Linked DNA regions of Homo sapiens: regions 1 and 2 are each linked to region 3. Evidence: fine-mapped expression QTL. A gene starts in region 3. Each other region holds a variant in brackets. All regions are shown on one strand. Distances are from middle to middle.

The links. PIP is the estimated chance that this variant, and not a neighbour inherited with it, causes the effect.
Region 1: its variant is the best candidate, but not a certain one, in a credible set for the expression of SRD5A3-AS1 in esophagus muscle (GTEx, PIP 0.84).
Region 2: its variant is the best candidate, but not a certain one, in a credible set for the expression of SRD5A3-AS1 in spinal cord (GTEx, PIP 0.60).

Annotation. Positions count from the first base shown.
Region 1 is chr4:55,356,401-55,366,513 of GRCh38, forward strand. It overlaps SRD5A3 (steroid 5 alpha-reductase 3), which reads left to right. Exons shown (of 5, transcript NM_024592.5): 2 at 2,946-3,088; 3 at 7,674-7,871. Among named protein-coding and RNA genes, the nearest start is that of SRD5A3, 15 kb to the left of the region's middle. RefSeq lists enhancers at 8,176-8,864, 8,865-9,552. The variant G/A (reference allele first, on the strand shown) is at 4,800.
Region 2 is chr4:55,560,454-55,570,566 of GRCh38, forward strand. It overlaps PDCL2 (phosducin like 2), which reads right to left. Exons shown (of 6, transcript NM_152401.3): 4 at 9,265-9,408; 5 at 1,951-2,159. Among named protein-coding and RNA genes, the nearest start is that of CLOCK, 19 kb to the left of the region's middle. The variant C/T (reference allele first, on the strand shown) is at 5,822.
Region 3 is chr4:55,381,202-55,391,314 of GRCh38, forward strand. It overlaps SRD5A3-AS1 (SRD5A3 antisense RNA 1), which reads right to left and starts at 4,379. Exons shown (of 4, transcript NR_037969.1): 1 at 4,344-4,379. It overlaps LINC02928 (long intergenic non-protein coding RNA 2928), which reads left to right. Exons shown (of 3, transcript XR_941060.4): 2 at 1,716-1,779; 3 at 5,142-7,071.

The sequences.
Region 1 (10,113 bases), 25 kb before region 3:
TTAAATACATTCATCTTGTTATCCAACTATCACCACCACCTATCTCCAGAACTTGTCCATCAGCCAGAGAGATTTTTAGGGTTTTGTTTGTTTGTTTGTTTTGAGACAGAATCTCGCTTTGTCACCCAGGCTGGAGTGCTGTGGCGGCATGATCACCACTTACTGCAGCCTCAGCCTGAGCCTCCCGAGTAGCTGGAACTACAGGCATGCATCATCACACCCAGCTAATTTTTTTATTTCTTTTCTTTTCTTTTTTAGTAGAGATGGGGCCTCATTATGTTGCTCAGGCTAGAGGGATTTTTTATTTATTTATTTATTTATTTATTTGAGATGGAGTCTCGCTCTGTTGCCCAGGCTGGAGTGCAATGGCGCGATCTTGGCTCACTGCAACCTCCGCCTCCTGGGTAGCCTAGAGGGATTTTTAAAACATAAATTACTACCTCACGTCACTCATCTGCCCAAATGGCTCCCCATTATAAAAGCTAGTGGCCTTACAAGGCTTCATGTCCTCTCCCCACTCCTGCCTCACCTTCTACCCTCGCCCTTGGCCATGCCAATGTACAGATGTCTTTTAATGTTCCTTGAACACCCCTAGTATACACCCACCTCATTGCCTTTGCAGTTGTTATTTCTTCTGCCTAGAAAGTTCTTCCCCTAGAAATCCACAGGGATGACTCATTCTAGCCAAATGTTACTTCCAGAGAAGCCACCCTTGACCATCCATCCAGAACAGCCTCCCCTCTGCACCCTCTGTCCCCTGACCCAGCATTATGCTAGATGTCTGCAGGTTTAGTTGTTGACCGTCTGACTCCCCACTCTAAGGTAAACTCCCATTAAGGCGGAGACCTAGTCTGTTTACTCCCTGCTGAGTCCCCAGCTTCTAGAATATTGCCCAACACATTCGAAGTGCTCAGTAAATATTTGTGAAAAAATTAAGTACGTAAAGTGGCTGGTCCAGAAATTGTCCTTCAGAAGCTATCCCTCCTGCCTTTTCCTGGGAGCCTGCAGAACAGCATGTTCTTGACCTTCCACTGTGCTCCACGAGGCTCAGACCATAACCTGGGGTCAGTTGTGGGAAGTGTGTCTTAAGGAAGACCCTGTGGTATAACCAAAGATCAGTAGCCACAGGTGGCGATTGGCCTTGATGCATGAACTTCTGTGAAAAGTAGGCTCTTGAAGCCTGGAGAAGATCCCAATTGGGAATCACAGGATGGCTCTCTTCAAATAGTTTAAGAGATGTTGTGTGGAATTAAAATTCTTGTTCTGTGTGGCCAGAGATGGCAAATCCAGTGATAGAATTTTATTTATTTATTTATTTGTTAAGACACAGGGTCTTGCTCTATTGCCCAGGCTGGAGTTGCAGAGGCAGAATCATAGCTCACTATAACCTCAAACTCCTGGCCTCAAGGGATCCTCTCACCTTGGCCTCCCAAAGCCCTGGGATTACAGGCATGCATCACCATGCCTGGCCAGTGATAGAATTTGCTAACAGTAATTGGCAGAGTGGAGTGGGTTGCCATGGAATGATCAGGTTGGATCAGAGTTTATCAGACTGAGTTTGTAGGCATGATCTCAGGGGCTGTGCATTCTCTTACAAGCACATTCTGGATCATCTGGAGGAGCCCCTGCGATTATGTTTAATCCTCTTTTGGCTCTAGGTTGTCTTTTATTGTCACAGACTAATGAGAAAAAGAAAAGAAGGAGTGGGATTTAATATATGCACGATGCATTGAAGACCAGGGAAAGCCAGATGACCGCCAGGCACTCAATAGAGTCAGAAAGGTTTCAGACTGAATAGAAAAAAATAGAAAAGTATACATAAACAGACCTCAAAAGAACCTATGAGGGGCTGGACATGGTGGCTCACACCTGTAATCTCAGCACTTTGGGAAGCCAAGGTGGGAGGGATCTCTTGAGCCCAGGAGTTTGAGACCAGCCTGGGCAGCATAGGGAGATCACATCTCTATAAAAAGTTTAAGAATTAGCCAGGCATGGTGGACTACTACAAGCCTGTGGTCCCAGCTACTTGGAAAGCTGCGGTGCGAGGATCACTTGAGCCTGGGAGGTCAATGTTGCAGTGAGTGGTGATCACAACACTGCACTCCAGCCTGGACAACACAGCAAGACCCTGTCTCAAAAAAAAAAAAAAAAAAAAAAGAAGAAGAAGAACCTGCTAGGCCCTAGGCCCTTGTGCCATATTAGGTGATTTTTTTTGTTTCAGCAAATCAACATCATCTTTTGCATTAAATTAACATCGCTAATTTCAATTGCATTGGTTTTGTGGTCCTATTTGTATTTAGTTTGTAGATGTGTTGATTGCAAAATAGGCCCTGTAGTTGTCTGAGAATTATAACCATAAGGAGTTAATACCTAGTTTTATGATTGTAGTATTAGTCATGTTATAATAAAAGTAATTTAGGTCAACCCAATTTGGAAAAACACTGAGTCATGCCTGAAGATCTTTTACTTCCTCTAGCCCCAAGTGTCTGCGATTATGCAAATCATGTGTAACAGTTGTGTGGCTATTACTGCAATATTGTTTGGGATATAGAAATCAAAATCTTTCACAGATTTAGCTTGTTTTAGCACAGTCTAGGTTCTCTTTGCAAGGGCCTGCAGCCTCCGTTTTGGGAACTTGAGTCCAATTCTGTTACCCAGCAATCAGAGAGATTGCTAACTAAACTTTATTCTAAGTTTAACACAGTTGGTTGTGTTCTTGTTAACCTCAGAGAGGCCTCTTTTTCCTGAAAGTTAACTGGTCCCGTTATTTGAAAGGAAATTTTAAGAACCTGAACACCTATAGGATTCAGATTCTATTAAAAAGCAAAGGTATACTTTGGGAATGGAGGGGTGGGGAAAGACAGAGAAACTAAAAATAATCTTCCCGTATAAGAGCTTGAAGTGGATCTACCCTAATTATTGCCTCGCTTGTTTTCCTTTTGCAGATATTTTTCCCACTTTTATATCATCTCAGTGCTGTGGAATGGCTTCCTGCTTTGGTGCCTTACTCAATCTCTGTTCCTGGGAGCACCTTTTCCAAGCTGGCTTCATGGTTTGCTCAGAATTCTCGGGGCGGCACAGTTCCAGGGTAAGGACTCCCTGGGCTTATGACAACGCTGCATCCCGTTTCTGTTGTTCCTGTCTGCAAGGGAGCAGTTTTTGGCATTTTGTCTCCTCTCTCGGCACCTCCTCAGAAGGGCCTGGGAAGTGGAGGATGAGGGCAAAAAAGAGCTTTGCACGGTTCATTGCCGGATGGCCAAAAGGATGTCCCTAAGCCCTTCCCTGAGAAGGAGACAGAGCCAAGAGTTAGCGCTCCTGACTTCCCAGCAAGTGCTGTGTTGTGTGCAGAACTGGCTGCCCTCCCTCTGGTATTTTTAGTACTGTTGATAAATTTATGAAGAAGTCTTTACACAAAAGGGGGAAAGCTTTTAGGATCTGTCAGGTTTGTCTGGAAACATTTATCATTTATACTGTTCCAACCAAACTCATGACTTAGAACTCCAGAAATGTGATTTAAAAATTACTTTTTCTGTCGGGTGCGGTGGCTCACGCCTGTAATCCCAGCACTTTGGGAGGCCAAGGCGGGCAGATCACAAGGTCAGGAGATCGAGACCATCCTGGCTAACACGGTGAAACCCTGTCTCTACTAAAAATACAAAAAAAAGTTAGCTGGGCATGGTGGCGGGCACCTGTAGCCCCAGCTACTCGGGAGGCTGAGGCAGGAGAATGGCATGAACCCGAGAGGCGGAGCTTGCAGTGAGCTGAGATCGGGCCACTGCACTCCAGCCTGGGCAACAGAGCGAGACTGTGTTTCAAAAAAAAAAAAAATTACTTTTTAATTCATACCTGTAATCCCAGCACTTTGGGAGGCCAAGGCAGGCAGATCACTTGAGATCAGGAGTTCAAGACCAGCCTGGCCAATGTGGTGAAACCCCAACTCTACTAAAAATACAAAAATAGCTGGGTGTGGTGGCAGGCGCTTGTAATCCCAGCTACTCGGGAGGCTGAGGCAGGAGAATCGCTTGAACCTGGGAGGCGGAGGTTGCCATGAGCTAAGATTGAGCTACTGCACTCCACGCCTGGGCAACAGAGGGAGACTTTGTCTCAAAAAAATAAATAAATAAATGAATAAAATAAATAAAAATTACTTTTTGATAAACATGGAAAAAAAGTTATGCTGTGAGGCTTTGGTAGTATAATAAAATTGACTAAACAGTTGTTGAACAGACGATTACAAAATAGCCTTTAAGTTTGCCATCCTCAGCATCAGGATGAAGAATATGGAACGTTTTTTTTTTTTTTTCTGAGATGGAGTTTCGCTCTTATTGCCCGGGCTGGAGTGCAATGGTGCAATCTTGGCTCACTGCAACCTCTGCCTCCCAGGTTCAAGCGATTCTCCTGCCTCAGCCTCCCAAGTAGCTGGGATTACAGCCATGTGCCACCACGCCCAGCTAATTTTGTATTTTTGGTAGAGAGATGGTGTTTCTCCATGTTGGTCAGGCTGGTCTCGAATTCCTGACCTCAGGTGATCCACCCGCATTGGCCTCCCAAAGCGCTGGGATTACAGGTGTGAGCCACCGCGCCCGGCCAGAACAGTTTTTAAAATAAAGAATTGAAGGTGAAAACTATGAAATGTCCTCAATTAAGGTCAGGCAGAGTGTGAGGGGCAGAATTAGAAACAAATTGTTCTAGTCTCATCTCTGTCCTTTGTTCCAGTGGCCAAACCACCTAGAAACAATCCTTTTCTGTATAACCAGATAAACTGGTTGCAAAAGATGACAATCAGAAGAGCAAACCCC[G/A]GCCGGGTGTGGTGGTTCATGCCTCTCATCCCAGCACTTCAGGAGGCTGAGGTGAGCAGATCACTTGAGGTCAAGAATTCAAGACCACCTTGGCCAACATGGTGAAATCCCGTTTTTACTAAAAATACAAAACTTAGCTGGGTGTGCTGGCACATGCCTGTAACCCCAGCTACTCGGTAGGCTGAGGAGAGAGAATTGCTTGAACCCAAGAGGCAGAGGTTGCAGTGAGCCAAGATTGTAACGTTGCACTCTAGCCTAAGAGGACAGAGCAAGACTCCGTCTCAAAAAAAAAAAAAAAAAAAAGAGCAAACCCTGCCGGGAACAGTGGGCAGTGACTCATACCTATAACCCCAGCACTTTGGGAGGCTGAAGCAGGTGGATCACTTGAGGTCAGGAGTTCAAGACCAGCCTGGCCAACATGGTGAAACCCCCGTCTCTACTAAAAATACAAAAAATTAGCGGGACGTGGTGGCGCGTGCCTGTAATCCCACTTACTCAGGAGGCTGAGGCAGGAGAATGGCTTGAACCCAGGAAGCAAAGGTTGCAGTAAGCTGAGATCATGCCACTGCACTCCAGCCTGTGCCACAGAGTGAGACTCCATCTAAAAAAAAAGAGCAAACCCGTGGACATCCTCTTTGGAAGGGTAGGCTACATCAGCGGATCTCACTCCACTCGTTAAAACTTCATCTCTTCGTTTGTTTACTGTGAGACTGACTGGGGTGTTTTGGTATTTGGAGGGTTGGTTGTGAGGATATGAGGAATTCTATTTGTTTGCTTTAACTTGTTCCTAAGGAGTTAAAACTAAGTTTTAGTTCATTTAAAATACAAAAACAGTCAAAGCTAATCTGTGCTGATAGGGGTTGTTCCCCATGGGAAGTTTGGGGGAGGGGTCGTGCCTACACTAGGGGGTGCTGTTCGTGTTCTGTTTCTTCTTTTTTTTTTTTTTGAGATGGAGCCTTGCTCTGTTGCCCAGGCTGGAGTGCAGTGGCCTGATCTCAGCTCACCACAACCTACCCCTCCCGGGTTCAAGCGATTCTCCTGCCTCAGCCTCCTGAGTAGCTGGGACTACAGGCATGCGCCACCATGCCCGGCTAATTTTTGTATTTTTAGTAGAGACAGGGTTTCACTCTGTTGGCCAGGCTGGTCTTGAACTCCTGACCTTGTGATCCGCCTGCCTCAGCCTCTCAAAGTGCTGGGATTACAGGCATGAGCCACCGCATCCAGCCTGTTTCTTTTGTTTGTTTCATTTTTTTCTTTCTTTTTCTTTTTTTAAGAGAGAGGGTCTCACTCTGTTGTACAGGCTGGAGTGCCGTGGCATGATCATAGCTCACTGCAGCCTTTAACTCCTGGGCTCGAGCAGTCCTCCCTCCTCCACCTCTTGAGTAGTTGGGACTACAGGTGCACGCCACTATGCCCAGCTAATTTTTTTTTTAATGTTTTTAGAGATGGGGTACCTGCTGTGTTGCCCAGGCTGGTCTCAAACTCCTGGTCTCAAGCGATCCTCCAACCTCAGCTTCCTAAAGTGTTCTGTTTCTGGATCTGGGTGCTGTTACATGGGTGGGATTGGTTGGCTTAATTTGTAAAAGTTAATTAAGTTGCATCTTTATGGTGTGCATGCGTGTGTGTGTGTTTGTGTGTGAGACTTTTTTTTTTTTTTTTTTAATGGAGACAGAGTCTTGCTCTATCTCCCAGGCTGATTGCAGTGGCCCAATCTTGGCTCACTGCAACCTCCACCTCCCAGGTTCAAGCAGTTCTACTACCTCAGCCTGCCAAGTAGCTGGTTCTACAGGCGCACACCACCATGCCTGGCTAATTTTTTGTATTTTTAGTAGAGACAGGGTTTCACCATGTTGCCCAGGCTGGTCTCGAACTCCTGAGCTCAGGCAATCCACCCGCCTCCAACTCCCAAAGTGGTAGGATTACAGGCATGAGCCATCGCCCCCGGCCGTGACTCATTTCTTTTTTAAGTGACTGGGCGTGGTATCTCACACCTAAAATCCCAGCACTTTGGGAGGCTGAGGCTGGAGGATGGCTTGAGGCCCGGAGTTCGAGACCAGCCTGGGCAACAAAAAAAATTTTTTTTTAATTAGTCAGGTGTGGTGGCACATGACTATAGTTCTAGCCACTCAGGAAGCTGAGACAGAGGATCACTTGAGCTCAGGAGTTCAAAGCTGCAGTGAGGCCTGACTGTGCCACTGCACTCTAGCCTGGGTGACAGAGCAAGACCCTGTCTCAAAAATAAAGAAGTTGACACATAAAATTAACCAAAAAATAAAAAACAAAAAAGAAAAAAAGAGAAACTAAGTGTGTGTTTTTTTAAAGCCAGCTTTTCTTCAGATTTTTTGGTGGGCAGGTCGTGAAAGACAGGTGAGGAAGTAGATCTTGGGCTCAGCATGCCTCTAAAAGTATAATTTCTTTTTTTTAATGTGGAAAGAAATGCATAACTCTGTTTCTGTTCCTGTCCCCCTCTCTGCCTCTGTGATGCCTGAGATACTGGGGATCCCACAGCTGGGGCCACTCAGAGGCTACCAGGAACGCTTCCAGTTTGCATCTGGCTGTTAGTGCCAGGACCAGAAACCCACAGACCTCTTCACAGACCTCCTGACCGTGATGTCCCTGAAGCCTGGAAGGCTGTCACACAATGAAGCAGAATTGAGTGATGGGTGTTTGTGAACCCAGTGAACTGTGTAACACAGTGAACTGTGTAATTTGAGTGAAGTCAAATTCCTTGACTTCATTTGGCCCATTTCTTCCTTACTACCAAAAAGAAAGATGTTAGATGGGATTTAATACTTTGCTTAACAGTACAGAAAAACAAAACTTTGGATTAATCCCAGAAGAGAAATGCTGACCCTGTTGCCTTCTGAATTGTAGGAGGGGAGCTGGCACTGTCTGCATTCTTAGTGCTAGTATTTCTGTGGCTGCACAGCTTACGAAGACTCTTCGAGTGCCTCTACGTCAGTGTCTTCTCCAATGTCATGATTCACGTCGTGCAGTACTGTTTTGGACTTGTCTATTATGTCCTTGTTGGCCTAACTGTGCTGAGCCAAGTGCCAATGGATGGCAGGAATGGTGAGTGGATCCAGCCCTGCCAGGAGCTCCCCACCCCAGGGTGTATGATGCGCTCTCGGGGCTTGTGCTGTGCTAAGCATTATGAGACATGCAGAAGTAAGAGACAGGCCCAATGCATTTTGCATTTCAGGAGATGAGACTCAAGTCGATTTTAAAAGGCCGGGCGTGGTCGCTTACACCTGTAATCCCACCACTTTGGGAGGCTGAGGCAGGTGGATCACTTGAGGCCAGGAGTTCGAGACCAGCCTGGCCAACATGGTGAAACTCTGTCTCTACTAAAAATTAAAAAAAAAAATTAGCCAGGCGTGGTGGCACACGCCTGTAGTCCCAGCTACTGGGGAGGCTGAGGCAGGAGAATTGCTTGAAACCAGAAGGTGGAGGTTGCAGTGAGCCGAGATCGCGCTACTGCACTCCAGCCTGGGCAACAGAGCGAGACTCCATCTCAAAAAAAAAGAAAAGAAAATGAGGGAAGGGAGAGTGCTTGCATGGAGTTGGGATTTGCAGAGGGGGTGGGGAGCCATTTTGTTGCCGCTTAGTTCCTGTGATTGTTCCCATCACAATAGAGCTTTTCTTCAAGTGACGCTGCCTGAGAGGAGAGGACAAAGAGTACTGTGGTAGTGAAAATTGTGTTTTAGTCTCTAAGCTCTCACTAGCCAGGAAGAGGGGAGCCAAACCATGACCTTGTTTACGAGAAGGAAATGAAATGGATTTTTTGTTTTATGGGGGGAGGAGGGGACATTACCTAACACATATGACTACCATTTTTGTAAAAACAATGCATGATTATAAAGAATTCAAGTCGCTTGGGGTGATGGGAATGAGTTTATAGTGCTGAGGTTAACCTGACCTTGCAGCCTTAGTATCTGTCAGTCTAGACCCCGTAGGTCTGTAATGACCATTGTCTCTAAACCCAGGGCTCCATGTTTTCAGCTGCCCTGTCCATCCTTGTAAACTCAGGCTGAGGTCTAGCGATTTCCAACAATCTGTGAGTGAGCTTCCTCCTCAGGTTAGATTTTGGTATGAGTGCCCCGTGAAAGTCGTCTCTCTGTTGCTGTAGCTCAACCTAAGGCCTCTGACTAGAGGAGTGATTTTAAAGGATTTATTGACGATCTTTCTCAATTCATGAATTATTGATTGGCTCCAGCCACTTAGCTAGCATCTCTCTGATTCCTCTGAACTTATTCCTCCCAGGCATGTCTGTGGTGGCATTCTGCCAGCCAGTACCATGGAAGGGGCTGTCATTCCTGGTGGGCAGTGCTGGTTCTCCCCCTAAAGGAACTTTGCAGAGCGCTTGGTGACTGCTAGCTTTTAGCGTGTTCTTGTTTGTTGGCGTTACCTGCCTCTCCCGGAGTTTCCTCTACTGGCTGCGTCTCAACTTCTGCCTTCCCTCCTGCGTAGATAGTCAAGGAAGAGGAGCCCACAAAAATAGCTTTCTAAGCACTCCTTTCTGAAGCTGTTTTCTGTTTCACCTCCTTGTCCTTCAAGGGTCATCTGGGATCATTTAGGACAATATGGGGAAAGTTGGTTTCAGTAATTCATTGAGAGAAAACACATTGGGGCATTTGCCAACCAAAGGGCGTGATAGAAATAACATGGGCTCCAGAGTCTTGATGGGCCTGCATCTGGCTCATTGAGCTTCTCTGAGCCTCACAGCCTTCATTAGTAATTATTGACACATACTGATTTCACAGGGTTCTTCTTAAAGTGAAAAGAAGACTATCTGTAAACTAGGATGTAAGCTCTATAAGGACTGGGATCTTGCCTGACTTATTCCCTGCTTTATCCTTTGTGCCTTCAGCAGGGCCAGGCTTAGGAGGCACTCCTTAAGTAACTAATGAATAAACAAATAATTAAATACTGAGTAGAACTGAGGAAATGTGAGCCTTCCACCTGCCTCCCTTTTCCTGCATTATAATTCTGGCGTTACCCTTAACAAATCCTTTTTCCTGTAGGTAAACTCTCTGCATTTAGCATAAGGGACTTAGTGATTTGAACTTCCAGACACTGTAACTTTTCATCCTGTTGACTTGCTCTTGAAGCCTGTCAGATTTAAAACTGTATTTTTAATATTTTGCTTATTTCATTTTTGTAGAGACAGGTTCTCGCTATGTTGGCAGGCTGGTCTCAAACCCCTGGCCTCAAGTGATCCTCCTGCCTTGGCCCCCGCAAAGTGCTGGGATTACAGGTGTGAGCCACTGTACCCAGCCTGTTTTGAACTTATAAAAATATAACCTAGTAGTTA
Region 2 (10,113 bases), 180 kb after region 3:
TTTTCTTAAAAAATAGTTAGGTGTGATGGCAGGCACCTGTAGTCCCAGCTACTCAGGAGGCTAAAGTGGGAGGATTACTTGAGCCTGAGAAGTCAAGGTTGCAAGTGAGCCATAATTGTGCCACTGCACTCCAGCCTGGGTGACAGAGTGAGATGCTATCTCAAAAAAATAGCTGAAGCAAGCATAAACAAATGTTCACATTTGTTACTTTTGGTAATTACTATGGTCTTGAATGTTTATGTCTCCCCAAAATTCATATGTTGAAATCCTAATGCCCAAGGTGATGGTATTAAGAGGTGGGGACTTTGGGAGTGGTTAGACCATGAGGGCAGAGAACTCATCAATGAAAGAGTGAACAGAGAGGCCAAAAGGAGCTTGTTTGCCCCTTCCACCACGTAAGGTCAATGAAGAGGTCACCATCTATGAAGAACAGGCCCTCAGAAAACACCAAATCTGCTGGCGCCTTGATCTGGGACTTCCCAGCCTCCAGAACTGTGAGACATTAATATAAAGTTTCTTGTTTATAAGCCACCCAGTTTACAGTATTTTTATTATAGCATCCCAAACAGAGAAGACAATAATGATTTCATGAATGCTTACTATATTATTATTCTATGTATTCTTTTATGTACTCTTATGTTGTTAATTTTTTTAATTAAAAAGAAAAGGTCCAAGCTACAAAAAACAAGGTGGTGAAACAAGGAAAGGCCTTAGAAGATTAAAAGAAAAATGGGAAAATTCTGAAACAAAGTATCAGAGGTCTCGGTAAGGGCAAAAACAGCTTTGGGGGACTGACAGAGTCAAAGAATACCTATTGAAAACAACCAGCCAGGGGCAGAGGCTCACGTCCGTAATCCCATCACTTTTGGAGGCTGAGGCGGGCGGATCTCCTGAGATCAGGAGTTCAAGACCAGCCTGGCCAACAGGGCGAACCCCCATCTCTACTAAAAATTACAAAAATTAGCCAGGTGTGGTGGTGGCCACCTGTAATCCCAGCTACTCGGGAGGCTGAGGCAGGGAGAATTGCTTGAACCAGGGAGGCAGAGGTTGCAGTGAGCCAAGGTCATGCCACTGCACTCTAGCCTGAGTGACAGAGCAAGGTTCTGTCTCAAAAACAAACAAACAAACAAACAAAAAACAAAAACCGAAAACAGCCACTCATGATGACTTTAACACAATGGTGAGAGAAAATGATTTTTAGTTTTGTAAAATCGAGTTAAAGCAGTGCCAAAAAATGAATATATCAAAGAGATGACCTTAGGAAGTAAAAACAATTAAAGAAGATAAAAATAGAAAGTCTTGTGTTGTGTGCTAAGAAAAATAAAGTAATAGGAGGCATGGTCCATGCACCTTTTAGGAAGATAAAATTCAAAGGGAATTGATTCATCAACAAAATTAGATATCATGCTAATAAGTGAAAAGAAAGATGCATTGAGAATATACACTACAGAAATTCAGTAGAGAAGAAAAAGATTACGAATTGGTCCAATATTACATAATGCAGTAAATAAAAATTGAACAGACTCATGAAGGAATAAACTTTGGATTTGGATAATAGAGAAAGGTAGAATACATTAGGTACAAGCAGAGAATGTGTAAAAAAAGTGTGATGGCACAAATGAGTAATGTCTATTTGTGGGTTGTGGCTGAAGACCAGCCTAACAGGAACAGAAACTAGCAAGCACTGAGAAATATAGTTGGAGAGGTGGGTGGAGATTCTAAAGGAGAAGATTCTAAATTTTTAATTTACTTGAGACAGGGAACTATTAAGGATTTTAAGCAAGGGGGTGTTATTAGAGTATTACTATAGGAAAATTAATCTGGAGGCATATAAAAAGAGACTAGAAGCAAGGAAAAAACCTTGGTACTAAGGAAGTAAGCTTTCAGGATGCTTGTTAGTTTGCAGATGTTTTCACCTATCATTTTTATAAACAAAATTTGTAACATTACCTTCCAGCTTGAGATTTATCCCTCCACATTCTATAATTCCAATGAATTTGGCTTCTATCTGACCATTTTTATACACAAAAATTGTTGGTAAACAATTGTCATGGTAGTGTTGAATACAGCTATTCACGATGGCTTTAACAAATTTAGTTTCTGGAAACTTTCTTGCTAGAAGACTAAGATGCTGGTTAACCAACAAACACATTGGGATGCTAAAAAGAGAAACAGTACACACAATCTTTAATAAATGGGCTACTCATCTCAGTCTAATGAAATAAGTAAAATATCGCCATGGCAAAAATATATCTTAGATTAATATAAAAGCACATTATTATCATCCTCTATTGTTACCTTTAGCAATGAAGAACTGTATGTAGAGTCCTCTGGTTTTTATTGCAAGCACCATTATAACCCGGGAATGAAGCTAGCTACCATGGCAAGCTGATGCTTAACTTAGGGAAACTACATTCAACTGAGCATCAGTTTGGTTCAAGCAGGTACCCAGTTTGTAGAAAAAAAAAAAAAAAACAGGACACTTCTAGGAAATCCTTTGCAGTTCTGAGTTGAAACAAAAGGATCCCAACCCTTGCTGCCATCATGAGCTTCTTTCCATGTAATGAGTTTACCATATCCAGAACTGTCTTTCCTGACTCCAACAAACTTCTTCCAGTCTTTGGAATCCCACTCCATGCCACATCCTGGTGGCCCATTATCCAGAACTATTCCTTACCAGAAATTTAATATTGATTGGAAGTGTGACCACAACCTCAGCTCTTCCTGCTTTATCACTTAATTCTCATCACACTCCTTGATCGATTAGTCCCTTTTCTCCCAGTTTATCCAACTTTCAAGTGAATCCCTTCACCTCTACTTTATTCCACATTCCTTCCACCTCCCTTGGGATCTTTGTTGGTTATTCTGCTTCCCTCTTTTCCTGTTTTCTCATCTTTCCTTCTCCAAAGACTCTTTCTCCATTTTACATAAACATATTCAATTTGAGCCGGGTGCAGTGGCTCAAGCCTATAATCCCGGCACTTTGGGAGGCCAAGATAGACAGATCATTTGAGGTCAGGAGTTCGAGACCAGCCTGGCCAACATGGTGAAACCCTGTCTCTACTAAAAAATGCAAGGTTTTAGGGGCCAAGGGAAAACTTTGCCCTCCAAAGGAAGGTTCACTGAAAGATCAACTAACAAAAGGCAAATTAATTGGAGAAAAGGCACACAAGTTTATTAACATGTACATGAGAGAGGAAACACAAAGTGATTACCCAAACCCTCCAATGGGGGACAGAAGCTTATATGCCATCTTGAGGCTACAGAAAGAATGGAGGCTCTGGCATGGCCAAAAACATGTTATTGGGGTAAATCAGGTTACAGTGACAAGACAGGCTATGGGAGGCAGAGAAGAGGAGGCCTGGATAGCAAAAGTGGTGTTGTTATGTAGATGAAACCTTACAGGTAGCAGCCCTCAAAGAGAATAGATGGTAAATGTTTCTTTTAGACCTTTCAAGGCATCAGATTCTCAGTTAACTTTGGTCCTAAATCAGACAAGGGAAGGCCCTCAGAGAAGGCCTGACTGCATGAATGCAGATTTTCTCTACAGTTGCAAATCCCCTCCACAAAAGACAGCTTTACGGGGTTACTTCAGTTTTGCTGGCTCTCTGAACACCCATCTCAAAATATGTCAAGAAAGTATATCTTAGGGTAAAATGTTTTGATTTCCTTCAAGGTGAAATGAGTCCACTAATATCTAATTCAGAGAAATTTTATAATTTTCATTAGAAATTTTGTCAGAATGAAAGCTCAGTCAGTGGTACAACAGATATTTGTGGGGTGGGTCAGTAGTGTGAATGGCAGAAGTCAGGTAGGTATTGGTGGTGGCAGTGAAAAGTATAGAATTAAGAGAATATTGCATAACAGATTGTGATGCAGGGAGAAAGGGTTGCCCGAAGACAGTTCTGACAGCAAGTAGTAGGGGAACAAATTTGGTGTTGGGGCTCAGGGCCAGAATTTTAACCCCAGAAGAGCTGTAAAATATGAGGCAGACCTCTAACATCACAAAACAAGTTAAGAGACTATTTATGGTATTCAAGCTTCAAAATATACACTTGGGTATAAGAATAATATAAAAGCCCCAAATTAGAATTGGGGTACAGGCATAGATTAAATAGAATTGGGGTACAGGGTAAGATTAAATAAAACCAGAAACAAGACTGACTTAAAGCTAAATCATTGGGCTTACTGGCCCAGGTTGAGTTAGATCCCTCTAAGGCACCTTAAGGAGGCTAAGCCTTCATTCCGATAAAAAGTGGGTCTAATCCTATCAATTTGATGGCAAAGAGCCATTGAAATTATAGAATTTAGGAGCCTAATCAAAAAACAAACACCACCCTTTTATAAAATTGATAGAAAGTAGCTAAAAATGAAACCACCTTTGTAAAAATTTTAACAGTGAGAGAATTATGACAGTGAAAGAGATTTGATCTAACCAACTCCCATCTTCCCTTTAACCTCCAAACTGCCCCGAATCATTCCTGGACTTGGGCCAAGCTAACTCTGGGAGAATTTCAGTTTACAGTTTAAATGATAATAGCTTTTCCCCAAAACTAAAACCACCTTTGTAAAGCTAAGGGAAGACTAGGTTAGGAGGATGAGAGGAGCCTGAACTCTGCTATGATACACACTTAAACAATTACCAGCCATTATTCTGGAAGTCACAAGATTTGCAACTTCCTCAATTACTCCTGCAGGTAACAACACTATTGTAGAACCTAAGATTGGTCTTTTTTATATATCTTTTAAGGTTTTTGCATTTCTGATGACTGATGCCTCTACCTGGACCCACCAAGCAGTACTGTGGCCCCATACAGAAGCAGACTTAGCACACATGAGGACTGTATTAGTCCGTTCTCATGCTGCTAATAAAGACATACCCAAGGCTGGGTAATTATAAAGGAAAGAGGTTTAACTGACTCACAGTTCAGTATGGCTGGGGAGGCCTCAAGAAACTTACAATCATGGCAGAAGGGGAAGCAAACACATTCTTCTTCACATGTGGCAGCAATGAGAAGTGCTGAGCAAAAGGGGAAAAGCCCCTTATAAAACCGTCAGATCTCATGAGAACTCACTCATTATCACAAGAACAGCATGAGGGTAACTGCCCCCATGATTAAATTACCTCCCGCCATGTCCCTCCCACGACAAATGGGGGTTATGGGAAATACAGTTCAAGATGAGATTTAGTGAGGACACAGCCAAACCATATCAAGGATCATTTTCTACATCCCTATGATTGCATTCCCAACCAATCAGCAGTACCCATTCTGTGGTCCTTGAAAAACCTCAGCCTCCAAATTTTGGGGGAGGCTGATTTGAGTAATAATAAAACTCTAGTTTCCTGTTCAACTGGCTCTGCATGAATTAAACTCTTTATTGCAATTCCCCTGTCTTGATAAATTGACTCTATATGGGCAGCAGGCAAAATGAACCCATTGTGTGGTTACAAAAACATAAATTAACAGCTGTCCTTCAACTTTACAATATTAAAAAGCTGTAAGTAAATCCATTTTTCTGTTTTTTTTTTTTTTTTTTTTTTTTTGAGATGGAGTCCTGCTCTGTTGCCCAGGCTAGAGTACAGTGATGTGATCTCAGCTCACTGCAGAGCTGCCTCCCAGGTTCAAGCGATTCTCCTGCCTCAGCCTCCCAAGTAACTGGGATTATAGGGACACATCACCATGCCCGGCTAATTTTTTTGTACTTTTAGTAGAGACAGGGTTTTGCCATGTTGGCCAGGCTGGTCTCAAACTCCCGACCTCAGGTGATCCGCCCGCCTCGGCCTCTCAAAATGCTGGGATTACAGGCATGAGCCACCGAG[C/T]CTGGCCAGTAAATCCACTGTTAAAAACTAAAGTTTTCTAAAGAATATTTGTAACACAATTATTTTCTGTTATATTTTATAAATTTAGATTACTACAGATTAATTTTCAAAATATATGTTTTATACCAACACAGGAATGTATTTTCCTTTTTCTCTTTTTTTTTTTTTTTTGATTTGGAGTCTTGCTCTGTCACCCAGGCTGGAGTGCAATGATCTTGGCTCACTGGAACCTCCGCCTCCCGGGTTCAAGCCATTCCCCTGCTTTAGCCTCCCACATTGCTGGGACTACAGGCATGCGCCACCAAGCCTGGCTAATTTTTTTTTTGTATTTTTAGTAGAGATGGGGTTTCACCATGCTGGCCAGGCTGGTCTTGAACTCCTGACCTCAAGTGATCCGCCTGCCTCGGCCTCCCAAAGTGCTGGGATTACAGGCAATGAGCCACCGCACCCAGCCCCAGGAATGTATTTTCTTAATGTCCAGAAAACTAATATGTAACTACTTTAGAGTGGCCCAGAAAAACCTTCTGAGAAGGTTTACTTAAAGTATTATGAAACCACATCCTTCTTTTTGAGTCTATCAAAGCATACAACAATTTGAAGCAGACTAAATCACATTCAACCTCTTTATGAATTTTTAAAAAATTATTTCTAAAAACTAGTAATTTATCTGGAAGTAACCATTAAGCTAGATAATTTTACTTAGAAGCCATATCTACTCTGCTAACCACACAGGATCAGAAAAAACATTCAGTAAACCACTTCAGTATATAATATTTACCACAAACAGATCCTTGTTTTATAAATGTCCGTGTTTCTCATCCTTATTTGTGAGATCTACAAGCAGCATTTACAAACTGGTTAACCAAATAAATAGTATAGGTAATATGGAAGTGTGATTTCAGGAAATAACTTTTCTCTGAAGAATGCAAGTCCTTTTAAATGTTTACCCCCACGGAGTCATTAAAATGAGACAGCAGGCCAGGCACAGTGGTTCACGCCTGTAATCTCAATACTCTGGGAGGCTGAGGCAGGAGGATCACTTGAAGCCAGGAGTTTGAGACCGGTCTGGGCGACATAACAATACCCCATTTCTACAAAAAAATTTTAAAACCTGGCCAGATGTGGTGGTGCAGACCTGTAGTCCAAGCTACTTGGAGGACTGAGGCAGGAGGATCATTGCTTGAGCCCAAGCATTCAAAGCTGCATTGAGCTACAATTGTCACTGTACTCCAGCTTGGGAAACACAGTGAGACCCTGTATCAAAAATAAAAAGAGAGAATCACAACCTACTCCCTCCTTGACCTATGTATTCATCTCTTGAAACTGCTTGCTATTGCTTGCAAGTAGCTATGAATCAACCCAATAATACTTCAGACACTGTAACTTTTATAGCTTAACAATATATTGCCAGTCACTAATCAATGTTATTTCCTTAAGCCAAAGAGAATTCCTGACAAACAACTTTGTATCAGTCCACTCCCTGTCCTCCTTTTATGTCTTCACAAACCTGCTCATAACAAAGGCTAAAGGGAGATCATATCCAAAGGTACTTGGGTTTAGTCTTCTGGGCAGCTATCCTCACTTTGGCTCAAGTAAACTCTTTAAATTATATTTTGTGCCCCAGCCTCTTCCTTTTAGGTCAACACATTCTTTTAAGGACTTTAAAGCTACTTAAAAATTAATCTACCAAGAGTTTTAGTTATAATAAAATAACTTTTATGGGGCATTTTCTTTTATGGGGCATGTTGTCCTGTCAAAATTTGACTCAGGAACTGCGAAGTATAGCCATACAGGCTATACAGGGTTATATACAGGGCTATAATTTGCATAAATTGCTCTGTATATAATTTCCCTGAGGACCTAAAGATAAAAACATTTATTATTCAGAGATTGAGATAAGGACAGTGAAGGTTGCTGTCATGGCCTCTGTTCCTAGAATGGTTTATAGCCCTGAGGCAGAGGGGTAGGGACCTAAAGCTAGAAGGACTGAACGAGAGAAACATTCAAAAGTCTACTTTCCCCATTTACTAGGCAAGACTGGTGAGGCCTAGGGACAGTGGGTTATACTTAGTACAACCAGGTATTTTTAAATTAACTGTCTTGGAGGAATGGGGGAGTGCAGGGGTGCAGGGAAATTGTTCTATTAGAAGAGACTTCAGAGAGCTGATATATCTAAATGTGCTGCATAATTCTTGATTGACTCCTTGTCCAAAACATATGTATTCATAAAAGATATTTTTAAGTCAGTCGGGAAAATCTGAGTAAGGACGACGTATTAGATGGTATTAGGAATTACTGTTAATTTTGTTAGGTGAGAAAATGGTATTGTGGTTATGTAGAAGAACGTTCTTGAAGGGATTCATAGTATACCACACCAAAATAAGCCACTCTGGCATAAGGATTATTTTGAGCTAAAGACAACTGAAAAGAAACAGACACAAGAAAAATATTCTCCACCCAGTAACATCCTCACTCCTGTCTCTACCAGGAAGGGCAGGACACTCTTAATCACTGGATAAAGCTCTAGATTCTTATCATTCCAGTGAGGCACCAGAGGAATCTATATAACAAACCTTGCTAAAACAACCTTTAATTTTGATTAAATTAAACACTCTAAATATCGACCATATAGATTCAACAAGTTGAATACATAGTTTCACCCATGTATTTACCATCCCACAGTTTGTCACTCCTAGAAGCTCAAAGACCCTTTCTGTTGTCTTATCAATTCTCTACAAATTTGCTGTTCTTTTGTTAAGAATCTATATAAGCCCAAGTTCTAACCACCCCTTTGAGTTACTTATCACTGAGCTCTCCTATGTGTATGTGTAATGCACTTGTAAATAGACTTCTGTTTGTTTTTCTCTTGTTAACCTGTCTTTTGTCAGTCCAACTTGCAGGGCCCCAGCCAATAAACCTAAAATGGGTAGAGGAAATATAATTTTTTTTTCTTTCCAACACCTTTATGTTTTGAAGGTGCATGCTGAAGTACACAGGAATAAATCATCATGCTATGTTCAGTTTACTTTCAGTTCACTTTCTACAAATGCAAATATACACACACACAGAAACAGTTATATAAATATGGCAGAAGGTTACTTGTTGAATCTGTATGGTCGATATTTAGAGTGTTCATTTTCTCATTCCTTCCACTTCTCTGTTTTTGAGATATTCTATAATAAAAAGTTTTTAACAAAACTACCAAAGAGTGCTTATTTTTCTAAAAAGTGTGACAAGTTCCTGAAATTAGAAATGAAAAGATCTTAAAATACCTAATTTAATCCCTGAAGCCAATGACTATCAAAACCTCTATGGATGTATATGTGTGCAATATATAGTTGCTTTTTCTTGAGTACTGTTATATACTTTGTAAAACCTTAAAACCAAAAATATGTCTTTTAAAATAGTAGTATATTAACATTTTGAAATATTATGGTAATTACCTTGATCTGTATAGATGAATTATAACCCACACATCTTCTTCTGCATTTGTGACTTCATTCACATACTGATTTCCAGAAATTTCTCTTAATTCTCCAAATTTTTGTTTTTTCTTAAGAGCTTTCCATTCCTGTAACCGCTTCTTTCTAATTAAAACATGAAATTAAATTACATAAGAATACTGTCATATTCTTAAGGTCATTCTCATATGTAATAACAATTTAGGGCAATGAATATAATGCCTATCCATATCAAACACTTTAAATGATGGGATAACCATGAATGATCTTATAAAACCAATTTCTCTTTTTATATGCAAATTTGTGTTATCATGGTTATTGGAAAGTGTAAGAAGTTTGCTATTGACTTTTAAATTTGTTTGTATTTAAGACTAGGTTTAAATCATAGCTATAGAGAGTTTATCTAGATGTTGTGCCAACAAATTCTCATGTACAAGTTGAATACTTCATTAAGGAGAATAATGATATCCAACATTAACCAAGTGCTTGCTATGTTACCAGGCACTATTTTAAATACATAACATTAATGAACTTAATCCTTGTAAAAATGTTACAAAGCCAGTACTATTATTATCCCCATTTAAATGTTAGTAACAGTCATGCTAAGATGATCTTCACTTCGAAGACTTTGTGGATATTTGTAATTACTTGTTATAAATATAGATTTATTATAGACAGAGAGGTAGTAGAGGAGAGTGATTATGAGCTTGGATTCTAAGCTCAGACTACACTGGGTTTAAATGCCAGTTCCAGTACTTGTTAATAGCATAAACTTGGGCAAGTTGTTTAATCTCTCTACACTTCAGTTTCCCTAACTGTACATGGGAATAA
Region 3 (10,113 bases):
TACACGTTACCCTTCTGAAACAGAAGAATAGCAATTTATGTGTTCAACCTAACGTACTTAACATCTGCTATATGGAAGGCACAGAGGTAGGTCCCATGGGGAATACAGGGCTGCATAAGACAAGATTCTTGCTCTCAAAGAGCATTCATTTCAGTATGAAGATGATGTAGATTTATCAACAACCTATTGCTTTAAGTTAAGATCATGGAGGAAATCTGTCAGTGCCCATCATTTCCTCACCACCTTATCCTCTCTTCTACACAAAGCCCAAATCCTGACACCTAATAGACTATCTATAGGACCATATGCTGTGCAGTTGCACTCTCAGAAGGGGCACATGCTTGGTTTAATCCTCTGCTGTTGCTGTCTTGGAATTCTTAGTGATTTTATCTTCGAATTTGTGTTTGGTAAGTGAAGCCAGTGAGACAATGAAGCATGCACATGAGCAGTGGAAACACCCCAGCGGGGAACGCATGCATGTGTGCATGATTCAGGGCAGTCCAGAGTGCAGCTGAGCCAGTACCTGGGCCCAGTTGCAGTGGTGATGGTGGCGGGCAGCAGGAGTAACAGTCAGGACAGCAATGGCTGCGGCTCCAAAGACAGGAAAGGGCTCTGCATATGGACATTGCCAGGACCACCAGTGGGAGACCAGCTCGCCTGTCCCTTGCCAGAGCTTAGCCCCGCATCATCTGCACAAATAGTAACTCTCCATCCTGAGTACTGGGACAGGAACTCATTCTGCTAACTTCTCAGTAAATTAGTACAACATGTATACAATAAAAGTGTATACATGAATATTGTCATAGCATAGCAGGGGGTTATTAGAATTCTTAAAGGATCTAAAATGTCTAGTTTTGAAAACTACTACAACATGGCAAAGCAAATAACCTCAGGCTTAGAAACAGAAATTAAGTTTAAAGATTGTCACATTCTACAGAAAAGAATGCTATTTTCCTAGGAAGTACAAACCAATTGTTTGGCAGAAAGATAATTAAACATGTTTTTTTTCTTATAATTGAAGAGTCAGTGACAGAATACATAAACAGGCCTTATGAATTATATACAAATTATGAAGCCACTTTCAGTTTCTTGTAAGACCTCCACAAGTTTCAGGAAATATTTCCTTATGTCTGCAGAAACATTAAAATATCATTGTGTAAATTTATACTTAAAATTAAATTCAGACTTTTACAGAAAACTGAGTTGTCTAAGGAGTTAAGTCCCTTTAGAAAAATTATTCCACAAGAACCAACAACTCTAGAAGTATTAAAATTTATATTTCAAAATAATTTATCAGAAATTTACCTTAGTGTTGTCACAGTTTATGAAACACTCTTAACAGCTGCATCAGCAGAAAGATCCTTTACGAAATGAAAAATTATCAAAATTTATTTGTGACTTTATATTTCCCAAGACTGGCTGGTGTTGCTTTCAGTCTTATCTATTGGTAAAGAAATTGTATGACATAAATTTCATATCTATTGAAAATGAAAGTGAAATGAAAAGAATAAATTTTGATGAATTTGCAGAAAAGTGAGCCAGAAAAATATAATAGGACATCACATTAATGAATGATTATTGTTTACTGTATTATATAAAATTATGACATCACAATTATTAGTTTAGCAATGTTTAAGTTCATGTAGTTACTCCAGTATCACTATTATCCCATTACATTAGTATCTTTAACTGTACTTTTTTCCTGTTTTTTACAGAGGAGGTCCCATATTTTCGTTTGGCACCAGGCTCAGCGAATTACATAGCCAGCAATGACCACAAGTAAGAGTGTTACAGATTTTTGTTATAAGCCATCATAGTAGACAATGCTTGCCTATGAATGCTTAAGGAGAGTAGAAAAAGAGCAAGAAATGCAAGAAAATGCATGTTCTTAATGTGTGCCATATAAAATCTATCAGGTAATAGGCATTTAATCTATGTTAAGAGTAAAGAAATATAGCCAGGCGCAGTGGCTCACACCTGTAATCCCAGCACTTTGGGAGGCCAAGGCAGGAGGATCACGAGGTCAGGAGTTCAAGACCAGCCTGACCAATATGATGAAACCCTGTCTCTACTAAAAATACAAAAATTACCTGGTCGTGGTGGCACACGCCTGTAGTCCCAGCTACTTGGGAAGCTGAGGCAGGAGAATCACTTGAACCTGGGAGGCAGAGGTTGCAGTGAGCCAGGATTGCACCACTGCACTCTACCCTGGGCGACAGAGAGAGACTCCGTCTCAAAAAAAAAAAAAGAAAGAAAGAAAAAAAGAGTAAATAATACTGTGGGCTATAGTGCAGAATTTGTCATAAGGAAAAATCTGTTTGCATTTAATCCAGGACTGATGTCACAAAGCAATTGGGGACAATGCCTTCAATTGATGCCATTCTCATTAAAATTAGGAGTTTTGGCTGGACACAGTGGCTCATGGCTGTAATCCCAGCATGTGGGGAGGCCAAGGCAGGAGGATTGCTTGAATCCAGGAGTTCAAGACCAGCCTTGGCAATGTAGTGAGACCCTCATCTCTACAAAAAACAGAAAAAAATTAGCTGGGTATGGTGGCACGTACCTATAGTCCCAGCTACTTGGGAGGCTGAGGTAGGAGGATAGCTTGAGCCCGGGAGGTCGAGGCTGATGTGAGCTGTAATCATGCTGCTGCACTCCAGCCTGGGCAACAAGAGGGGACTCTGTTTCAAAAATAATAATAACAATTTAAAAATTATGTGTTTTGCTGTCCAGAGCATAAGTTTGACAGGGATAAACATCCATTCAAATGGGAGTCAAATTCAGGTATCTTATAAATAGCAAGCCTGTTAGATTGTCCTTCTATGAGCATTCTTTGTTTTCAAATATGGAGAACTATTTTTCTAAAGATCAGAGAAATGGCCACCACAATATGGGCCCACCTCATCTATTTTTGGTTTCTTCAAAAATGATGACTCCAATGAACTTTGCAGTAAAAACAAAATGACAATAAAGATGACTTACTTGTGAAAAATAAACAGCAGGGAAAAGCACTGAAGCCAGATAAACCAAATCTGCTTCCCATAAAGTGAAAAAAGATCCACTGAATTATAATTGTTTTTATTTTCATATGATGATTGTTGCATAAAACTAATTTGTTGCTGAATTAAGAAACATAAGACACATATTTACCCTAAATAATTTTAGTTCATCTCCTGGCTTTTAGTGAAATTATCGATTTCTAGGTGATATAATTTGTGTGCCGGCTGGGCAAAGTGGCTCACACCCGTAATCCTAACACTTTGGGAGGTGAAGGCAGGAAGATCACTTGAACCCAGGAGTTCAACACCAGCCTGGGCAATAGGGTGAGACTGTGTCTCTACAAGGAATTTAAAAATTAGCGGGGCATGGTGGTGCACGTGTGTAGTCTCAGCTACTCGGGAGGCTGAGGCAGGAGGATCACTTGACCCTGGGAGTGAGCTGTGATCACGCCACTGCCCTCCAGCCTGCATGAAAGTGTGTCAATGCTTTTTTTTCCTCCTTCTTTTTATTTTTATTTTTTCTTCACTCTGTCACCTAGGCTGGAGGGCAGTGGTGCAATTATACCTCGCTGCAGCCTCTATCTCCTGGGCTTAGGTGATCTTCCTGCCTCAGCCTCCCGAGTAGCAGAGACTACAGGCACATGCCACCATACTCAGCTATTTTTTTTTTAATATTTTGTGGAGATGGAATTTCACCATGTTGCCCAGGCTGATCTCAAATTCCTGAGCTCAAGCAATCTGCCCACCTCAGCCTCCCAAAGTGCCGGGATTGCAGGCATGAGCCACTGTGCCTGGCCCAATGCTTTTAATGGGCCCATTTTAGCCACATTTCTAGTACTTATATTATTCAAATAGACTCAGAAAAGCTGTAAGCCTGTACAGAATTACAGTGTAAGACATCATAAACAATGTTTTAAAAATTAGAAAAACCAATTGCAATACATGTAAGAAAGAAAAAATAAATATTCACAATATATAAACCGCTCTTACAAATCAGTGAAAACACAACTTTACAGCATGACAACTTTGAAAGAGGAACACCAGATAAGAACTGTCTGGGGCGAGCATAGAAGAGTCTCATTCCTCTGTCTGAGTGGTACTGGGTGAGTGGAATGGTTGGTGATTATAGGCTGACAAAGCCCTAGGCTTTTTCTTAGCCCCAGCTCCCTGCCTTCTCCCCTCACTGCCCCCTCCTGTGGGGGCACTACCTAGCAACTGAGGTTTGGGTTTTACAGTGAAAATAATTTTATGAGTCAGAAAGGAGTGAGAAAAGTGTGTTATCAGATAGCATTCCACAGTGGTAAAAGCAAAACAAACAAAAAACAGGACTATTTCTCTACATACTGTCTGGGACTTTGGGACCTTCACTGCAGACCTCTTGTGGCAGTGTATGTGTGATTCCAGTCGTATGGTGGGTATGTGGTTAGGGTATTATTACATCGTAGGTCTATAAAGGGCCAAGCCCCTTGCTCCGACATGCAAAGAAAGGATTGCAAACTGGCAGGCTGCAGGTCATACCGTGCTCATAGACAGCTACTGTTTTGTATGCACAGTTTTTAAAATTGTGAATTAGTGTAATGGTTAATTATATGTGTCAACTTGGTTAGGCTACGGGGCTCAGTTTTTTGTTACAACACTAATAACAATGTGGCTGTGAAGATATTTTGCAGATATAGTTAATATCTACAACCAGTTGACTTTAAGTAAAGGAGTCTACTTTCAATAATGTGGGTAGGCCTCATCTAATTAGTTAAAAGCCTTAAGAGCAAAATCGGAGATTTCCTGGAGAAGGACTTCTGCCCCAGGATTGTAACATAAAAATCTGGCTTGAGTTTCCAGCCTGCTGGTGTTTTCTAAGATTTCAGACTTGTTGTATGCCTCCTACTGGTTCTGTTTCTCTGGAGAACCCTGACTGATATAGTTACTATGACACAGACTATTAATTGCTGACCCCAAGAGCCTTTCTCCCTTTATTCCCTATAGTAAGTGCCTCTGAAATAGAGACTACATTTCCCAGCTTCCCTTGCAATTAGCTGTCACCATGCAGCTAAGTTCTAGCCAATAAGATGTAAGCAGATGTGGTTTGTGGCAGCTCCCTTGAAACATACCTGATGCATACCCTGTGTCTCCTTGTTTTTCCAGCCAGTCCTCCATCCTTCTGCTGGGAACTTGGATGCTAGAGCTCTTGCAGTCACACTGGGCCATGAAGATAAAGGTCACCCCCTAGGAATGATAGAGCAGAAAGCTGGAAGGAACCTGGGTCCCTGATCTCTGTGGAGCCACTGAACTGCCTCTAATGAAGGAAAACATTTCTCTCATTTATGCTGCATGTTCTTTTCGATTTTATGTTATATTTAGTGGAGTATAATCCTAATTTGATACAATTGCCAACTTTTAAAAATCAGGAAATTTCACACAAATATTCAGCTCTCTGGCTTTTCTCTTGAAAATTTGGTACATCTGACAAAACATGAAGTCATGCTTCCCATTGCAGCAACTGACCTGGGCAGGATAATGGATGCCTGCTTCAGACAGGGATGGAGACCTCACCAATTTTTTTTCCTTCATTTTAATTGGGAAGTGGGGCAAGATGGAAAAATTGTGGATGCCAACTTTGTAACTTTGTCTTTCTCCCTGCATCATTTTTAGCAAGAACATTTCGACACTGGTGTAGTCCACAAGGGAAGATACTGAGAGAGGAGAAAGGAAGAAACCTTTCAGGCATCAGTTAGGGTGGGTCCTTGGTTAAATTCTTTCAAACAAAAGAACAGCCTGAAAAATCAAGCTGCAGGCACAGATAAGGGGATCTGCACAGGTGGCCTTGACTAAGACATTCCCACAGCCACACAGATATGAAAGCCTACCCAGATGACTTGCCCAGATACTTCTGCAGTGGAAAATTCCATCCCCTGACACATGCGCAGTAAGGGGAAAAAAGCAATATGGAATAAAACTTAAGCTAAGGGCCCACATGCACACTAGAAGGATGAGGTGGAGCTACCAGAAATTCATGCCTTATGCAAATGAGATGCCCAGCCCTCACCGGTTCTTATAAAAGCCTTTGCAGTCACCTGTAAAAGCAGCAACCCTCCTCCAGGTCCCCTCTCCACTGTGGAGAGCTTTCTTCTTTTGCTTATTAAACTTTCGCTGCAACTTCATCCTTTGCATCCACGCTCCTTAATTTTCTTGGTCATGAGACGAAGAACTCCAGGTGATACCTCACCTGCTACATTATGGAGAGACTGCTACATTATGGTGCACTGGTGAAAATATAACATTTCTGATGGTGGTGGAAGCAGAGGCCATCCTTTGCTGTTTCATGCCCAATTCTGTAGGCCTGCCTCAGAGAGAAGGGGAGCACAGGTCTCAGCATCCACAGACTTTTCATGGCGGTGAAGCTCTACTATCAACACTTGGAAAGAGGGAATCAGAGGGTCTTCTACTCCATGGCTGCAACTTTTTCTCATTTTAAAGATCCTCCTCTAGTCTAATGGATTTATATTTCTCTGGCTGACGTAATTTTGACCCTACTTCTTGGTAATACCCGAGCCTTAATTTGATGAAAGAGTATCACTCCCACCTAATTTCCAACCACCTCTCTGCCCTGAGTAGCTTCATCAAAATTCACACCTTGCTTGACAATGGAGAGAAGATTTCGCCTAACCTGGGGGAGGATGGAGGGGATGGAGGGTATAGCCTCAGTTGCTGTCAGACCTAAACCAGACTTGGCAATAATTGGGGGAGGTGGAGTGCCCTGGGTTGAAGGAGTCTTGGTGAGTTAAACACCCATTATTGTCTTTGGCTGTAAATGAACTCAAGGTCACTAGGAAGTGAGTGGAAAGTCAGATGAACTCTGTCTCTCAGAGGCAGGCCAAGGGCAAAGAAGGCACAGAAGCCACTTCAAAACTTTCAGGCCTTTTGGGAGGAAAGGGTGGGTATGGAATGAGGCTGACTTTCAAAGATGAAGCTGTGACAGATCAGAAATCTGTATTTTTGAGCCAGACTATGTCTGTGTCTAGGTTTGCCTTTGTCTTTTTGTTGTCAGAATTTCATTAAACTAATTATTCATTCATGTATGAGTGTCTTCTACAGCCAGGAACTCTTTAGACAAGATTCTGGCCCTGATGACACTTACGTTTTAGTTGCCAATACAGATAATAAATATAAGAAGTAAACAAAGGCCGGGCATGCTGGCTCACACCTGTAATCCCAGCACTTTAGGAGGCTGAGGAGGTCAGATCATTTGAGGTCAGGAGTTCAAGACCAGCCTGGCCAGTATGGTGAAATCCTGTCTTTACTAAAAATACAAAAAAAAAAAAAAAAAAAAAAGAGCTGGCATGATGGCACATGCCTGTAATCCCAGCTACTCGGGAGGCTGAGGCATGAGAATTGCTTGAACCCAGCAGGCAGAGGTTGCAGTAAGCTGAGATTGCACCATTGCACTCCAGCCTGGGTGACAGAATGCGACCCTGTCTCAAAAAACAAAAAACAGGCTGGGCACAGTGGCTCATGCCTGTAATCCCAGCACTTTGGGAGGCCGAGGTGGGCGGATCACTTGAGGCCAGGAGTTCAAGACCAGCCTGGCCAACATGGTGAAACCCCGTCTCTACTAAAAATACAAAAGTTAGCTGGGCACAGTGGTGCGTGCCTGTAATCCCAGCTACTCGGGAGGCTGAGGGAGGAGAACTGCTCAACTGGGACTTGGGAGGCAGAGGTTGCAGTGAGTGGAGATCACGACACTGCACTCCAGCCTGGGCTACAGAGTGAGACTCTGTCTTGAAAAACAAAACAAAACAAAAAAAGAAGTAAACAATTAGATAATCAGCCTGGGCTACAGAGTGAGACTGTCTTGAAAAACAAAACAAAACAAAAAAAGAAGTAAACAATTAGATAATCAAGATGGCCAGGTGTGGTGGCTCACACCTTTATCCCAGCACTTCAGGAGGCCAAGATGGGCAGATCACTTGAGGTCAAGAGTTTGAGACTGGCCTGGCCAACATGGCGAAACCCTGTCTCTATTAAAAATACAAAAATTAGCCAGGCGTGGTGGCATATGCCTGTAGTCCCAGCTACTCAGGAGGCTGAGGCAGGAGAATCGCTTGAACCCAGGAGGAAGAGGTTGCAGTGAGCCGAGATCGTACCACTGCACTCCAGCCTGGGCAACAGAGCAAGACTCTGTCTCAAAAAAAAAAAAAAAAAAGATAATTTCAGATAGTGATAAGTGCTATGAAAAAACTTTCAAAAATCCCCAAACTTAAAAAGAACCAACAATGAGACAGAGTGACAAGGGTGAATGGAAGAGTCTATTTTAGATGGGTGGTCTGGGAAGGCTGCTCTTGAGGAAGTGAACTTTAACCTAAATGACCAGAATAAGACCTAAAAAAAAAAAAAAAAAAAAAAAAGAGTGTTCTCAGAAGAGAAAACCAGAAGTATGAAGAGTCTGAGGTGGAAATAAGCTCTTGGTTGGGCATGGCACATGAGGTGGAGAAAGCCAAGAGACAAGGTCACACAGGGAGGCAGGGGTAGCTCACATTAAACTTTCTTTTCTTTTTTTTTTTTTTGTTTTGAGACAGAGTTTCACTCTTGACACCCAGGCTGGAATGCAATGGCGTAATCTTGGCTCACTGCAACCTCTGCCTCCTGGGTTCAAGCGATTCTCCTGCATCAGCCTCCCGAGTAACTGGGATTACAGGCGCCTGCCACCACACCCAGCTAATTTTTGTATTTTTAGTAGAGATGGGTTTTTGCCATGTTGGCCAGGCTGGTCTCGAACTCCTGAGCTCAGGTTATCCACCTGCCTCAGCCTCCCAAAGTGCTGGGATTACAGGTGTGAGCCAACGCACCCAGCCGAGCTCACATTAAACTTTCATTCAGAGATTGTTTTATCTTTATTCTCTGCCCATTTAGAAGTCATTACTTTTAAGCAGTGGAATGAAATTATTTTAATTTTGAAAGCTCATTCTGGCTGCTGGTTAGATTCTAGATTGGCAGAGGCAGGGAGACCAATTAGGAGCCCATTTAATTGTCCAGGTGAGAAATGACACCTGGTTTGTACAAGGTGGTAACAGTGGAGATAGAGGTGAACAGATTCAGATAGATTTTAAAATTAGAGACAAAATTTGCTGGTGGATTGGATGTGGGGTATGGGGAATCTAATGGAGTAATCTAATATGGTGGATGTTGGTTCCATTTACTAAGATGGAAAGCCTGAAGGAGGAACAGGTTTTTGGAGGGACATCAAAAGACCTGTTTTGCCCTTGCTCTGTTGGAAATGCCTGTGAAACATCCAGAAGGTGATGCAAGGAAAGAGTTGGATAAATGAACCTGGAGCATGTATTTAGCATTCTTTTTGGAATTTTCAGCCTGCTTGTGGAAACCTAGGAAAGCCCAAGAATGTAGGGAAACAGCTGCCCTCCCTTTCCCCTGCACCAGCAGAGTTCGCATACAAGGGTCCAGATCCCCATCATTTAAAGGGGTTTAGCAAGCTGATGGGTAGCAGTGTGCTTCGTTTCATGAGCTTTAAAGAGTTGAGAAGGTCAAGCAAGTTGCATATTGCTATTCGTCATTCACTTACATTTGCTGAGTGCTTTAATTTTTTTTTTTTTTTTTGAGACAGAGTCTTGCTCTGTTGCCCAGGCTGGAGTGCAGTGGTGTGATCTCAGTTCACTGCAACCTCCACCTCCCGGGTTCAAGCCATCTCCTGCCTCAGCCTCCCAAGTAGCAGGGACCACAGGCACACGGCACCACACCCAGCTAATTTTTGTATGTTCAGTAGAGATAGGGTTTCACCACATTGGTCAGGCTGGTCTCAAACTGCTGACCTCAGGTGATCCAGCTGCCTCGGCCTCCCAAAGTGCTGGGATTACAGGTGTGAGCCACCGTGCCCAGCCTGAGTGCTTTAAATTTGAATGATCTTCAGTTGACTCTTAGCGTGAAGTTTCTGGTTTTTGCTTCTCCTCTTTCCTCATATCTCCCTGCCCTGGCTTCTTTAACCAACCTTTGCTCTGTGGACTATTTAAGGAAAAAACTTTAATCGGCCCTTTGCTGATTATGGGGAAGGAGGGTTCTCCAGCAGAGCTCAGGAAATAGCTCACTTCTCCCTATTTCTGAAACA